Regions from separate parts of the Homo sapiens genome. Here region 2 is linked to region 1. The links come from fine-mapping of genetic effects on gene expression. Tissue or cell type: whole blood. Region 1 holds a variant in brackets; the other region holds the start of a gene. All regions are shown on one strand. Distances are between the middles of the regions.

What was found. PIP is the estimated chance that this variant, and not a neighbour inherited with it, causes the effect.
Region 2: it holds the start of GUCA1B, and the variant in region 1 is fine-mapped to the expression of GUCA1B in whole blood (TOPMed, PIP above 0.99).

The regions. Positions count from the first base shown.
Region 1 is chr6:42,229,160-42,237,351 of GRCh38, reverse strand. TRERF1 (transcriptional regulating factor 1) reads left to right here. Exons shown (of 18, transcript NM_001395490.1): 16 at 941-1,147; 17 at 4,424-4,671. It overlaps LOC105375061 (a long non-coding RNA gene), which reads right to left. Exons shown (of 4, transcript XR_001744122.2): 2 at 2,852-2,992; 3 at 2,284-2,558; 4 at 848-936. Among named protein-coding and RNA genes, the nearest start is that of MRPS10, 15 kb to the right of the region's middle. RefSeq lists an enhancer at 695-854. The variant A/G (reference allele first, on the strand shown) is at 3,607.
Region 2 is chr6:42,189,956-42,198,115 of GRCh38, reverse strand. GUCA1B (guanylate cyclase activator 1B) reads left to right here and starts at 3,160. Exons shown (of 4, transcript NM_002098.6): 1 at 3,160-3,502. The coding sequence starts at 3,296. RefSeq lists a cis regulatory region at 1-669.

The sequences.
Region 1 (8,192 bases):
AAGTAGTTAAGCAAGGGGAGAATGAGAGCCTCCTGGATCGTTGCCCTTCCATCCCAGCACACCCAGGGCACCCACTCCAAGCTATTCCAGTAACTTACTATTCTGTTAACCTTGAGGAGGGCAGGGACCTTCTGCTTAATTCTCCACATGGCTGCTGTTCTGAAGTGGGGAGAGTGGCCATAGAAGCAGAGGAGATCATTATTCATAGGAAAAGTTTTTCTTGTTCTTTTTCATTAAATGCCTCTGGTAGGAGAAAATGAATAAATAGAAACATTGAATACACTGCTTTTTCTAAGCCCATGGTCAGAGACAAAAGGAAAAGCACATGACAAATAAAAGGGAATCTCCCCTTCCATTTTCTCTCCTTTCACTCTATTTTCTGACAAGACCAGAGTGGAGCTCCCCTTGAGTCACGTGCTTTCTGCACACCGCAGGTCAAATCCAGTATCTTGCATGGTGTGTTATAAAGCCTCTAAAACAAATCAGCACAGGTCCTTCTTTAGTCTCTCTCCAAGGGGGATTCCATGGTATTGTTATTGCTGGAAACCCCTCTTCACCTCTGTGAGGAGACAGAGCTACTTACAGGCAGGACGCAGCCTGAGTTTTAGTCATTTTAAGATCTGATAGTCTCGAACAAGGTGGGGAATCCTTGCATGTAGAAATTGCTCCTCTCTGCCTCACCATATCTTTATATAAGTGATGAGGGGTCCCGAAGTGGGGCAGGGGACTTACTTCCTTGACCTCGAAGTCCTAAGCATCCGGAGACCAACCTTTTGAGGATCACGCCTAACAGGCTCTGTCCACCATTCCTTATGCAGAAAGAAAGGAACACAGCGCCAGCATCCTGCCCCTCTCTCCTCTGTTGATCTGTGAGTTCTGTTCATCACTAAGAATGCCATTTGGGGATTTTCCCCTCTTGCTTTTATTACCTTAACACTAGACAAGTGAAGAAGAAGAAGAGTTAGAGGAGGAGGAGGAGGAGGACCCGGAAGAAGATAGGAAATCCACAAAAGAAGAAGAGAGTGAGGTGCCGAAGTCCCCGGAGCCACCACCCGTCCCCGTCCTGGCTCCCACGGAGGGGCCGCCCCTGCAGGCCCTGGGCCAGCCCTCAGGCTCCTTCATCTGTGAAATGCCCAACTGTGGGGCTGTAAGTGTGTCTGTGTCGTCTGGGGATCTGGGACAAGTGAGAGCCATATAGCTGTGCCTGGCTTTAAGAGATGATGTATTTTCGAGAGTGCTCTTCCAACAGTCACAGTTTGGCAGAGGGTGCTCCATGTTGCCATTGTTTTCTGCTTCATTTGGCCAACAGGTATTTACAGAGTGTGTGTTCTGTGTCAAGCATGATGCTGCGTGTTGGAGAACACAGAGAAGGCCCCCATGCCCAGGAGTGTGTGATTCCAAGCTCTGCAGTGAGCGTGGCCTCCAAAACATACATTCCACATTTCCTGGAGCCTCTGCATTCCCCTGGGCTGTGTGTCACACAAGCTTGTGCCCTGTCAACATGCATTTAAATGTACTAGGAGAGCCTGCTGACAAAGATCATCCTTTTATGACATAATTACTTGCCCTACCTCCTGCAATTTTACCTATTTAGAAGGTTTTGCATTTCACATTTCATAAAGTGTTACTAATCGAAATGTCACTAATTTAAAATTGAGAACACTGTTACAAAGATTTAACTAAAGTTTATCTTTGTACTCTATGGTGGAGAAAAAAAAGATTTACTAAAAGTAAATTAATCATATAAACAGGCTGAAAGGGAGTGTGTGTAAATACAGAGGCTACTACTTTTCAAGAATATTAGAAGCATAATTTAGCTAAAATAAAACAAGTTCACCATGTGGTCATTCTTAGCACTAAAGAAAGACCTTACGGTATCTGTGCTGGCCTTGTCTAAGGCTCCATATGTATTTTAAAGGATATTTTTAAAGGTTATTTCTCAATCTCCCGCTGGTCTGCCACTAGTCTGAATTGGTGAGCTTTTCCCAAATCAGGTTTCTTAAGGCCAGGCACACCTGTATAGGCAAGTTCTAGAGGGATTACCCCTCAAAATAATGTTGCCCCTTGCAGAGGAAGCCCATTTTCCTTAAGTCAGTGTGCTTGTCTTTGCTCATACATGATATAGGACAGTGCTGTTCTCCAGAGTGTACTGAATGCTGCTTACCTGTCACTTAGATGGAGAAAGCAACAGTCTTTAAAATATTTAGATCCTAAAGCAGAAATTCATTTGATTTGCATTTAAGAAAAAATGAAAATTAAAAAAAAAACAAAAAAGATACATACATTTTGCATTCACTTTGAAGAGAACAGAAGAGATTGCTGGCTTGTTTTCCATCTTTGATGTTTAATGACCTGGCCATTTTGTATAGAGTGTTCACTGCAGCATGATTGCGATAATGACTTTAAGTGATGGTATTTCTTGGTGAATTTGTTCAGAAATTAGATGCCTCCTCAAATCATAGCTCTATGTACAATAAGTTGTGTACCAAATGGAAGTTATCTTTTACTTTTTCCCATCAAATGCTCAGCAAGTTAGATATTTTTCTGTTCCAATTTTTCTGTACATAAGGGAAAAGATATTTTTTAATGACTTTTAAAAATCACAGTGGAAAAAGCGTGCTGGTTTTATTTTATTCCTTGCCTAACGATGGAGGCTTTGGTTGCTAAGTCAGCGATAGGTTTTTTCCTATGTAAGAAAATAACCAGAGCTTGGCCAGGCGCGGTGGCTCACGCCTGTAATCCCAGCACTTTGGGAGGCTGAGGCAGGTGGATCACAAGGTCAAGAGATCAAGACCATCCTGGCCAACATGGTGAAACCCCGTCTCTACTATACTAAAAATACAAAACTTACCTGGGCGTGGTGGTGCGCGCCTGTAGTCCCAGCTACTTGGGAGGCTAAGGCAGGAGAATCGCTTAAACCCAGGAGGCAGAGGTTGCGGTAAACTGAGATCATGCCACTGCACTCCAGCCTGGTGACAGAGTGAGACTCCATCTGAAAAAAAAAAAACAAGCAAACAAACAAACAAAAAAAACAGAGATCATAAACTTAATACAGCAACTACTACAGCTAGACAGCCCAGTAGGTACTCCCCTTAGCTGATGAGTTTAACAAGCTGGAAGCCAGGACTCATTGGATTCAGGGATATGGATTTACACCCCTTTATAGCGGTGGTTCTGAACTGGGGATGATTTATTCCCCAAGAACATTTGGCAGTGTCTGGAATTTATCATAACTTTTATCATAAATGCGGAGGTGCTGCTAGCATCTGGTAGGGCCAGAGATGCTGCTAAACATCCTATACAACAGAGCCCCCCACCCATCACAACAAAGAATTATCCAGCCCAAAATGATAGTAGTGCTGATGTTAAGAAAACCCAGCTTTATGGCAGGATTTTAAAATTCTGCCAAGATCCTTCTTCTTTTTATCATCTGTATTAAAATTTGGGGGTCTTAAACATTGCTTCAACAATGGGCTACTGATTAAGGCTATCTACAACGTAGAATACGTCAGAAAACCTAATCACTGTCTTTCAAACTGGATTCCTTAGGGTGCTAGGGCTTCCTCGGGGTAGATAGAGCTGAGCAAACAGGCGCAATTCTGGGGC[A/G]CTGTCTCCATTCTAGCCAGAGCACCTCTGCTTTTAACTTGAGCCTGAGTTTTTTTAGTAAGACCTGATTTCCTAAAAAGGAAGGAGGGAGGGAAAGAGGAAGGAAGGAAGAAAAATGGGAGGAAAAGAAGGAGGTAGTTATCATCTTTAAAAAAGTTTGAGGCCAGGCGTGGTGGCTCACGCCTGTAATCCCAGCACTTTGGGAGGCCAAGGCGGGCAGATCACAAGGTCAGGAGATCGAGACCATCCTGGCTAACACGGTGAAACCCTGTCTCTACTAAAACTACAAAAAATTAGCCAGGCGTGGTGGCGGGCGCCTGTAGTCCCAGCTACTCGGGAGGCTGAGGCAGGAGAATGGTGTGAACCTGGGAGGCGGAGCTTGCAGTGAGCTGAGACCGCACCACCACACTCCAGCCTGGGTGACAGAGCGAGACTCTGTCTCAAAAAAAAAAAAAAAAAAAAAAGTTTGAAAGCTGGTCCAGCCCTCTCATTCCTCAGATGGAAAAAAATAAAGTATACAGAAGGGAAATGGCCCAACAGCTTTAGTTATAGTAGAGCTGGGTCCAAACCCCTGACGTCTTGACTTCTAGACAGTAGCTTTATTCTTTATCCTGTGCCACGTCGCTTCTTCTCTTCTGATTGTAGCAGTGATGAGGTTTTGATTGGCACAGGATCTGTGGTTGTGGTATTTGATCTTTACCTTTTGTAGCATATGCCCAAAGTTTGCTTATATAAAACCCTTGTGCCCTGTCATTAGACAGTTTCAAGTATTCCATGTTTACCACTGAGTAACTAATAACCCTAATTTCCTTTTCAGGACTGTAGATGTCATGTCACTCCCTTTCTTCCCCAGGTGTTCAGCTCCCGACAGGCACTGAATGGCCATGCCCGCATCCACGGGGGCACCAACCAGGTGACCAAGGCCCGAGGTGCCATCCCCTCTGGGAAGCAGAAGCCTGGTGGCACCCAGAGTGGGTACTGTTCGGTAAAGAGCTCACCCTCTCACAGCACCACCAGCGGCGAGACAGACCCCACCACCATCTTCCCCTGCAAGGAGTGTGGCAAGTAGGTGCAGGGGACCGGGGACTGAATCTGAGTTCATGATGGGTAGTCGCTCTATGGGAGCTGGGCCAGGATGGCCTGAGGTTTCTTCAATCAGAAAAAAGAACTTAGACCTCAAAACTCTTCTTCGTGTCATCTTTGGGATGGGTATGTAGTCCTGTTGCAGACTCAGAATATGGCCATTCTGTTATCTTAGAGCCTTGTAAGGATGGATATCTTCAGAGAGTGAACCTGTAAGTTACAAAACTTCACTCTTTCCCAGGAATGGCAGGTGGGACTCTGGTTCCCACTCCTTCCCTTCACACCCAAGCTATGTTCACTAGCATTACTCTGTTTGGATCCCCGCTGAATGATTTGAGAATGGCTCTACAACATCTAATCAGGAACTCTCTGTAACACAGATGGCTCATACAGGGTAATCCTACCACCTTCGCTTACTTCTGTGACTAAGGCAGACATCACTAATCAATCACCACACTTTGCTATCACTTTAAGACAAAGCCTCAATTACTTTTTGTTGTCATGCTTCAAGCTGCACAACCAATTAATCAGAGTTGACACATGAAATAAAACCTATTTGTTATCCTCCCCTTTTAGGTATAATTTAAAAAACAACAACAGCTAAAGAAAAAAAGTAACGAGATAGTAATTATAATAGCTAACATTTACTGAGCATTTACTTTGTTACATGCTTTATGTGTGTGAGCTCACTTAATCCTTACATAGAAACTCCATGTGATACAGATACTGTTTTTTTATCTTTGTTTTACAAATAAGGGTTTAAAAATTAGGTAAAATGACTTGACCTAAATCACAGTGCCAGTAAAGAGCAGAACTGAGATTTGAACCCAGTTTTGTCCGAATGCAGACCTGGGCTTCTGACCACTGCTCTTTCCTTTTGGTTTACTTTGTTTTTTGCTTTAGGTAGAAAATGCCATTGATGGTAAGATGGGTGATTCCCTCCCACAGCCTCCAGTAGAGAATTCCAGTGTACTTCTCAATGAGTCCACCTGACTGGAAGGGTACTACATTGTTATGAATTACATCCTTTAGGAGCCTTGCTGAGTTCCTCTTCCCATAATTCCTAGTGCCTCGAGCATGAAAAGGAGTATTACCTGGGAGAGATGCTGCCCAAGTGGTTTCTGAAACTCTACCACGAAAACATCCCTAGTTACATCAGCAAGGCTAGGTGGGACCTCTACTTATACATCCTCATAGAGTAGAGCAGGCAACTTAATAGTAACTGCTGTTTATCAGGTACTAACTATGTGCCTGGCACTGTTTTAAAGGATTCTTTACATGTTTTAGTCTGTTTTGTGTTGCTACAACAGAATATCACTGACTGGATAATTTATAAAGAAAATAAATTTATTTCTTATAGTTCTGGAGGCTGGGAAGTTCAAGGTCAAGGGGCCTGCATCTGGCAAGGGCCTTCTTGCTAAGTCATCCCATTGTGGAAGGGCAAAGAGAGGGGAGAGAGAGCAAGAGGTTGAACTTGCAGCCTCATACCCTATTATAATCGGCATGAATCCATTCATGAGGGTGAGGCCCTCGTCACTGAAACACCTCCCATTAGGCCACACCTTCCAACATAGCTGCATTAGGGATTCAGTTTTCAACATGTGCTGTTTGGGGGACACATTCAACCCATAGCACATGTACTGATTAATCTTTAAAATAGCCCTATGAGGCAGGTACTTTTAGGAGCTTCTTTTTTACAGGCAGAAACTGAGGCACAGAAAAGTGAAGCCCCTGTTGCAGTTCACAGCGAGCAGCCTAGTGGGGATTCACACCATGCAGGCTGGCCTGGCCTTGTGCTCCTGGCTCTATGCCATGCTGCGTCTGATTAAGCCCAGCTTGATGGCACCCACCAAAGTGAACTGGAACTAGCAGATCACTTCCCCCCATGAAGCACAGGGATGGGAGAGATGGGATTCGGTGTGGGTCTCCTCCACACCCTGCTGTCCTTCCAAGCTGGCCATGATGTCATTTTAACATCACCACCCACCACACACTGGTGCACCATGGAAGAAATGGGCCCCTGGATTGATCTTAAGGCTTTTTTAATTGAAATAATGATGGAACCACCCTCAGCTGACTCTCAGTGATCTCCCGCTTATTTGTCCTGGAGTGGCAGCATCAGGGTATCAGGGTCTTGCCAGTTTTCCCCCAGAGGAGCTAGCACCACCCACTCATTAGGCTCAAACAGGCTACAACGCTACATTCCACCAGGTGGAGACAGAGGATGATTTAACTTAAAAAAAATCAGTATTTCATGTTTCCCAGCCATGTCTCAGTAGCATCTATTAAATGTTTTTTTTTTTGGAGTCTTACGTTGCTTGGAAACTTTTTCTACCAGAAATCCAGTTATGATTTCATGGAAAATACAAATGGTTTCTGTGGCTTTTCCTAACTCAAAATAACATTAGGCAAATGTTCACAAAATACCTCTTAGAGGTGCTGAAATTATGTTTGTTACATTTAACCATTTTCAGTGTGTCCAAGCAGAATTGTGATTTATCAGCCCCGTTGGACTCAGGCCTTAGAAACCAGGTGTTTTGTGTGTGTGTTTTTGTTTTGTTTTGTTTTTTCCTTCATGAGCTCAGAAGTGACTAAAGAGTATTATGCCACCCCCTCTCCATAAACAGTCTCACACCTGGGCACGCTTCTTCTGAAAAAGGTCCAGATAGTTAATATTTGAGGTTTTGTGGGCCGTTTACTGTCTTTATCATAACTGCTCAGCTGTGCCATTGCAGCACAGAAACGGCCATCAACATTGCATAAACAGACATGGCTATGTGCCAATAAAACTTTATTCCCAAAAACAGTCAGGATTTGGCCCACTGACCATAGTTTGCAGACCTCTCATCTAAAGAATTAACCCCAGCAATATATCATTTTATCCCCGGGTTTCTCAACCTCAGCACTGTTGGCATTTCAAGTCTGCCAATTCCTTGCTTGGCGAAGAGGGAGTGTCCTCTGTGTTGGAGGATGTGTAGCCATTATGATAATATCATGGCCACAAAGCAGGGGCCTTAAGTGAAAGGGAGTAGTAGATGTAGCTCAGAAGTCAAGTACAATAAAGACAGGGGCCACTGAATTTGGCCACACAGAGTTACCAGTGACCTCGAGAAGAGCAATTGGGTTGACAGGGAGAGGACAACAGTCCACTTGGAGAGGAAGAAGCAGAGAAAAAAGAGATCCACCAAGTGCGTGTGGGCAGATCCTTCAAGAATTTTGACCGTGGGTTGGGCGCAGTGGTTCACACGTGTAATCACAACACTTTGGGAGGCCAAGGTGGGAGGATCACTTGAGGCCAGGAGTTCGAGGCCAGCATGGGCAACATAGCAAGACTCCATCTCTACAAAATATTTAAAAATTAGCCAGGCATGGTGGTATGTACCTGTAGTCCTAGCTAATCGAGAGGCTCAGGTGGGAGGATCACTTGAGCCCAGGAGTTCAAGGTTATGGTGAGCTGTGATCACACCAGTGCACTCCAGCCTGGGCAATAGAGAGACACCCTG
Region 2 (8,160 bases), 39 kb after region 1:
ATCTCAGAGAGGGGGAGAGGGAATTCGGCAGGAAGAGTATGTAGTATGATTGTCTGGCATGATCTGAAGTGCGTACAGCCAGCATGATTTATGATGTCCTCCAATGATGTCCAGGCTCCCCACTGTAGGCAAAGTGTTACTGCATAGTTAGTGAACAGCCTTAACCAGGGCCAGGCCAAGTGAGGCGTTAGGAGGAGAGAGGGGCACAAAAGTCAAAATGGAGAGAATGCTGGGCCATGGAATGAAGATAAGGAGGAGAGTGAGGAGATGAGCAAGATGACAGATGTTAAAAACAGATCAGCAGGTTGGAAGTCGCAATGAGATTAGTGAATTATTGGAGTGAAGGTATTACAGTAACAGATGGAAGGGGTGGGGTGCTGATAACAGACGGCAGCGTTTGAATGTTTCAGAGGTAGTAGAGATTGGTGACAGCAAGGCCTAGGGTGGTGATCCTCAAACTTCAGTACGCATTGGAAGCACCTGGAGGGCTTGTTAAAACACAGACTCCTGGCCCCAGCCCACAGTTCCTGATTCAGCAGGTCTGAGGTGGGGCCTGAGACATTGCATTTCTAGCAAGCTCCCAGATGCTGCACTTGTGGCTCAGGGACCACAAGTGAATGGAAGTACTAGGTAAGGTGGAAGAAAAGCTCTTTGGAACTAAAGAGATCAAGGACCAGGCCAGGCCCGGTGGCTTACGCATGTGGGACCATGCCAGGTTGCCAGCAATTAGAGACTAAGAGGGCAGTGTGACCCCCACACATCTCACTGGGGCCGGGCGCAGTGGCTCATGCCTGTAATCCCAGCACTTTGGGAGGCCAAGGCGAGCAGATCATCTGAGGTCAGGAGTTCGAAACCAGCCTGGTCAACATGGTGAAACCCCATCTCTACTAAAAATAGAAAAATTGGCCGGGCATGGTGGCAGGCACCTGTAATTCCAGTTACTAGGGAGGCTGAGGCAGGAGAATCGCTTGAACCCGGGTGGCGGAGTTCACAGTGAGCCGAGATCGCACCACTGCATTCCAGCCTGGGTGAAAAGAGCAAAAACTCTGTTTCAAAAAAAAAAAAAAAAAAGAGAGAGAGATCAAGTACCTTTGAGGCCAGTGTATGGGATGGGCTGTTTATCCACTTGGAGGTCACAGTCACTGAAATGACTGACATGATGCTTTGAGACAAGCAGGGAAGTCACCAGTGAATGACAGTAATGAGGAGAAGTAAATAGTGGCAAGGAGTCAGATGTGGCTTCAAAGGGACTGGCCTTTTTTGGGGAGAAAAAAGTAAAAGGCCATTTGGAGGCAAGAGTTAGAAGCGAGGAGGACACTAGCCCTGTTATCTAGACCTTGAGGTGTGTGTGGGGGAGAAAAACCCACCACCACTTGAAAGGATGACAGAAGAAATCACATTTCTCCTTCAGGAATAGCAAGAAAGTTAAAAGAGCTTTCAGAGCTCAGTGACGTCTGGAGGCAGAGAACAGTGAGAGAGGAGGTCAGGCCTGGAGATGTGCAAAACAATTCAGGCTGAACACCCAGTGAGGGATGGGTAGGTTAAGGATAGATTCACTGGAACTGCTGCCTCTGAAGTCTTCTAGAAAAATGAGTGTCACTGGGCGTGGTGGCTCATGCCTATAATCCCAGCACTTTGGGAGACCAAGGCGGGTGGATCACTTGAGGTCAGGAGTTTGAAACCAGCCTGGCCAACATGATGAAACCCCATCTCTACTAAAAATACAAAAATTAGCTGGCTGCTGGGTGCATCAAACCAACATGGCACATGTATACCTATGTAACAAACCTGTATGTTGTGCACATGTACCCTAGAACTTAAAGTATAATAAAAAAAAAAAAAAGAAGAAAAAATAGCTGGGTGTTGTGGTGTGCACCTGTAATCCCAGCTGCTCGGGAGGCTGAGGCATGAGAATCACTTGAACCCGGAGGCGGAAGTTGCAGTGAGCCGAGATCACACCACTGCACTCCAGCCTGGGCGACAGAGCGAGACCCTGTCTCAAAAAATAGAAATTTAAAAAAAAAAAGCAAAGAAAAAGAAAAATGTGTGTCCCTGGTCTTTTGATTTCTTGGAGGTGTCATTTTTATGTTACATTAAAATAAGCATGAATATGTAATTGTTCAAAAGCAAATTTTACATGACCTATAATGTAAAAGTAAGAGCCTTCAAAGATATTTTAGGCCATGCTCCCAGATCCTTCTCACATGTTAGTATTTTGGAGGAAATGTGAAAAAGGCACTACCCCTAGGTCTTGTGTGAAGGGTTGGAGGGAGGCATTTGTAGTTTAAATCAGAAAGTGAAAAGCTCCCAAGATGAAAGGTGTAATCTGGAAAGGAGCTTCAGGGACCGAGTTAGCCTGGGAAGAGAGTTGCTCACCTAGAGCCCTTCCCATCATAGATTCTGCCTCTTTTCACTAGACCGTCTGAGGGGCGAGTCCCAGATCACCAGCAGATTCTGTTTTATGGCCTAGGACTTGATCTCACTTCCTCTCTGGATTTGAGTCTCCTGTCTCCAAGATGGGCCTCCCTGAAGCAATGTGAGGCCCAGCTAAAGAGATAGGGAGTGAGTGAGATGGGAGGATCCCAGCCTAGCACCCCGACTCTTTCTTCACTCTGCATCTCTCTGCTTACCTCTCAGTTTCTTCCCCTTCTACCTCTTCAGAGTCTACCAGGGCCAGCTTGGTTGCTTTGTTGACAAGGCTAAGGGAAGGAGTGAGGCTGGAGGAGTTTAGGCTGGAGGTCAGAACTTCCTGGGGAATCTCTTTTTTTTTTTTTTTTTTTTTTTTTGAGACAGAGTCTCACTCTGTCCCCCAGGCTGGAGTGCAGTGGTGTGATCGCAGCTCACTGCAACCTCTATCTCCCAGGTTCAAGTGATTCTCCTGCCTCAGCCTCCTGAATAGCTGGGATTACAGGTACCCACCACCATGCCCAGCTAATTTTTTGTATTTTTAGTAGAGACAGGATTTCACCATGTTGGCCAGGCTGGTCTCGAACTCCTGACCTTGTGATCCACCCACCTCGGCCTCCCAAAGTGCTGGGATTACAGGCATGAGCCACCGCACCCGGCCACCTGGGGAATCTTCTAATAGTCTTAGGGCAGCTTAGCTGGCCTGGACCCACCTCCCTTGCCACCTGCCCCCTGCACCGACTGATCATGTTCAGTCACCCAGGAGATGATGGAGAGGCTGATCAGGCCTCCTGGAAAGGGAGGAAGAGGGCCCTAGTTGGAGAGATCCATCAGCAGAAGCCAGGGAGGAGATACAGACCCTTGCTCCCTGATGCTCCTCAGGGCTAGCATGGGGCAGGAGTTTAGCTGGGAGGAGGCGGAGGCAGCTGGCGAGATAGATGTGGCGGAGCTCCAGGAGTGGTACAAGAAGTTTGTGATGGAGTGCCCCAGCGGCACACTCTTTATGCATGAGTTTAAGCGCTTCTTCAAGGTCACAGACGATGAGGAGGCCTCCCAGTATGTAGAGGGCATGTTCCGAGCCTTCGACAAGAATGGGGTAAGGCACCCTGAAGGGAAGGACCAGTGGCCAGTCCACCTGGCGCCTTCCTCCACAAGTGTCCTCAGGGAGAGCTCCCAGTTCCCCACTCCTCGGCTCTTTCTCTGCTCTTCTTTCCACTCCGTCTCTCTTTACCTTTTCTGTCTCACTCACCAAACCCTTCTGTCTCTTCTCTTCCTTTTGTCCCTTTCCATCTTCTCTGTCTCTCCTTCCCTCCCTCCATCTCTTAGCTGTCGGCTGATGCTCCCTGTGTCCTCTTCTTGAGAGCTGAAGGGCGACTGGCAGACAGTCCAGGTCCTCTCTTTGTGTATTTTTGACCAAGACTCTGCAGCCCAATGACCGGGTTTTCGCATCTGCCAGAGCCCCTGTCACTCTAAACACTAGGAGCAAAAGAGATGTTCTAAATGAGACAAGGTATCTTAGCATGGGCTATGAGCTCCCTCTTGTTGGGGTTCTTCTGAGACTGGTCAGATCCTCCCTGTCAAGAATGCTGGAAGAGGCTCCTGCATGTATTGGGAGACTGGGCGAATGACTGCAAAAGCCCCTTTCAGCTCTTCAAGTCCTGGAAGGTTTCATTAAATCATTCAGACTAGAGTTTCTCTAAGCCCACAATGTCACTAGCAGCTAAGAAGATAACACATCTTGTAAATGCACCAGGGGATTGAATTTTAAATTTCAATTCAGTTAAAAACCCCTTGATTATTTAAGGTTATCCAGTTCAGTGCCCTGGCAATCCTCAAATACCTCAAATACCTCAAATGCCCTGGTATTTGCCTCAAATACCAATTTAATCTGAAGAAAGTGTCAGTTCTCCATTCCTCAGTGCGTGGAGAACTTAGCTTTCTAAGCTGAATCACTGGGAATGCCACTTCAGGTCTCATCCTGTCGCTGGTACCAGTCAGTGCACGTCCCCACAGTGCCTGTCCCGGGACAGGAGGGTGAGGTCAGCACCTTCAATTCAACAGAACCTCCTTAGAGATGAACCCCATCGACCACCCCACAGGGCACAGAGCCAGTTTCGGACTTCTCAGCGCTCCGCCTCTCTTAGGTCTCCTCTGAATCAGCAGCAACCCTGGGTGGGAGGGGCAGACTTTTGTTATTCCAAATTAAATGATGAGAAAGCTGGGCAAAAGGGAATGAATCGATTTGCCCAAGGTCTTAAGTGCTCCTGCCTAGAAGGCAGGTTTTTTAAAGAGAGAAGATGACTTTTTAAAATAATTGATGTTTTTTTAAAATGTAAGAAAAGTAAACAAATATATCAGGTCATAAATAATAAGACTCATTTAAGTCCATCAATCTTCCCCAGATTCATCTAAAAATCAATACGATCATGATTCAAGATCCAAAGGGCTGATTAAGCCCCTAGGCATATAGTTGTACTCCTTATACCTCATCTCTTCTTATAAATCGGCATATGATGTTCATCAATGTTTTTTCCTTTTTGAATAACTTTTTAATTTTACTATGATTCTAAATTTACAGAAGAGTTATAAGAATGATACAAGTAACTCCCATATGCAATTTATCCAAATTTCCCCAGTTATTCACATTTTATATCATTTACTTTATCATTCTGCCTCTCTCTGTATACATACATATATATAATGTATCCTATAAGTATATATACATATACATGATACATAATTTATACATATACTTTTTTTAAGAGAAAGCTATAGATATCATGCCCGTTTATCCCTAAGTATTTCAGTGTGTATTTTCTTTTTTGTTTTTGAGACAGAGTCTCGCTCTGTCACCCAGTGGCATGATTTCAGCTCTTTGCGGCCTCTGATTTCCCAGGCTCAAGGGATCCTCCCACCTCAACCTCTCAAGTAGCTGGGATTACAGGTGTGCACCACCATGCCTGCTAATTTTTGTATTATTTATTTATTTATGTTGGTAGAGATGAGGTCTCGCCATGTTGCCCAGGCTAGAGTGCAGTGGCACAATCTCAGCTCACTGCAATCTCCACCTCCTGAGTTCAAGCAATTCTCATGACTCATCCTCCTGAGTAGCTAGGATTACAGGTGCACACTCCCATGCCTGGCTAATTTTTGTATTTTTAGTAGAAACGGGGTTTCACCATGTTGACCAGACTGGTGTCGAACTCCTGACCTGAAGTGATTTGCCCACCCCGGCCTCCCAGAGTGCTGGAATTACAGGCATGAGCCACTGCACCCGGCCAGGTTTCTTTCTTTTTTCCTTTTTCTTTTCTTTTCTTTTCTTTTCTCTCTTTTTTTTTTTTTTTTTTTTTTTTTTTGAGTTGGAGTCTCGCTCTGTCACCCTGGCTGTAGTGCAGTGGTATGATCTTGGCTCACTGCAACCTCCACCTCCCAGGTTCAAGCGATTCTCCTGCCTCAGCCTCCCCAGTAGCTGGGACTACAGGCGAGCACCACCATGCCCAGCTAATTTTTGTATTTTTAGTAGAGATGGGGTTTCACCATGTTGGCCATGATTGTCTCCATCTCTTGACTTCATGATCCACCCGCCTCGGTCTCCCAAAGTGTTGGGATTACAGGCATGAGCCACCATGCCTGGCCTTCCTTTTTCTTTTTTTTTTTCTTTTTTTTTTTTTGTATGATCATACATTGCATTTACTTGTTGTATCTCCTTAGTCTTCTTTAACCTGGAATCTTTAATCTCAGCTTTTCTTTTTTATTTGACTGTGACATTTTTGAAGACTGCAGCTGAGTTATGTTGTAGGACAGCCCACAACTGGCGTTTGTCTAAATTGGTAGAATTGCCACTGATGTGATGTTGTGTCCTCGGTTCATCATACCATCCGGTACAAGACATCAGTTTGTCCCATCACTGGCGTAGTTAACTTTGATCACTTGGTTAAGGTGGTATCTGCCATGTTTCAACATTGTAAAGTTACTATTTTTTTCTTTGTAATTAATAAGCAACATGTAAGGATATATCTTGAGACTAAGTAAATATCCTATTGTTCAGTCAAATTTTCTACTGGCTTTGGCATCTGTTGATAATTTTCTAACCCCATCACCCCTTCTCTATTTATTAGTTGGCATTCCACTGTAAGGAAGAGCCTCCCTAGAAAGTGTTTTTCAGTTCCTCTCTCAGGGACTGAGCCTTCTTTCCCACTTAGTCTTTGTCTCCAAACCTACACCTGACTCCATTCCCCCTTATATCAAGGAGTGTCATTTCGGAACAATCGGTCTGAGATTTCTAAAGCAAATCCAATCAAAAGTGTTTATAGATGTGGTTCACACGTGAAAATGTGAGGTGATGGAAACCGGTTTGGTGGGGACAAAAAGGTAGGAACACCTCGTCTCTGCCACTCTCCCTTGCAACTCTCGTGGTTGCCCTATGACCGCCTGGAATGGAAGAAAGGGGAGGGTGAAGATCAGATGTCATTTAGGATTCTTATATAACATGCATTGAAGTCAGGGCTGGTGCACAAATATGGCCAATTCAAGGAGAAACAGGGCAGATAATCCCACAGAGCCGGTGACACGCCCATCCTATTCCTGAGTAGACAGAGCCATTTCCATCACTCTCAGGCCTCTGTGGGTAATTGGAGCTGACAAGGTCCCATGCATAGCAGATGAGATTAGTCCCAGCTGGACGTTTCCCAGAAATGGTCCTGGGGTTTCCAGTAACCTCTCAGATGAGATCACTTGTCTAGAGATCACTCTGGAATATGTCTCATATAAGGCAAGGAGTCATGGAAACTGAATCATGTTGAGAGAGGATGTTGTAGGAATAGAAGCTTCTGGACAAAGAATGAGGAAGACTCTGGAGATCTAGAGAGTGGGGATTTGTGAGTGGTTTCAGGTTTTGTTTTTGTTTTTCTTCTCTTGGCACCCCCAAGCACTAGGCTTATTTGCTGGACAGAAATAGATCTTAAGTGGAGACTGCAAGTTCTTCCGACGTGATGCACTGGAGGAGATGCATGCCTGGAAAAGCTCTGCCACTTGCTGGCTGGGTGGCCTGGGAACCTCTGGGTCTCAGGCTCCTCATCCATAAAATGGGGATAATAACTAATTCTCATTAAATAAGAAACACAAGATTGATTTGTGGTAAGCTTAATAAGTAACAACTACTCGAGAAAATAGCCTTTTAAAGAACTGACAACCATTGCTAAGTGTCTACCCTAAAAAAAGAAATACCAGAGATATAAGAAAAGGTATACGTGCAAAAAAAAAGTTCATTGTTTAATGGAAAATATTAGAAATATATTCAACAAAGGGAATGTTCAGTACCCCCTCCCCACCAAAAAAAAAAAAAAAAATGGAAGTTGACATTTTAACTAATTTTTAAAGACATGAGAAAATGTTACATGAGAATGAAGGAAACAAAATTATAAATATAATCTGACCTCAATTAGATAAGTATATGATGGGGAGTACGGAGACCATATATTTATAGGAATTATATAAAAGATATGAATAGAACACTTCAGGTACTAAGGTAAGCTCGTTTTGTTTTCTTCTTAGTTTTTCCTTAGGCTTCTTGCTGTTTCCCTCATTTTCTGCCATTTTCTCCTGTTGCTCAAACCTTGTTCACTGAGGCACCCCTTGATCTGGGGCTGGGGCTCCTGAGTGGCCTGACCCAGTGGGACAGAAGTGCTCTGGGCCATCAGTGTCATTTCTGATAACAAAGTCATGTGAATGACAGGCACTCCTGGGGGATCTGAT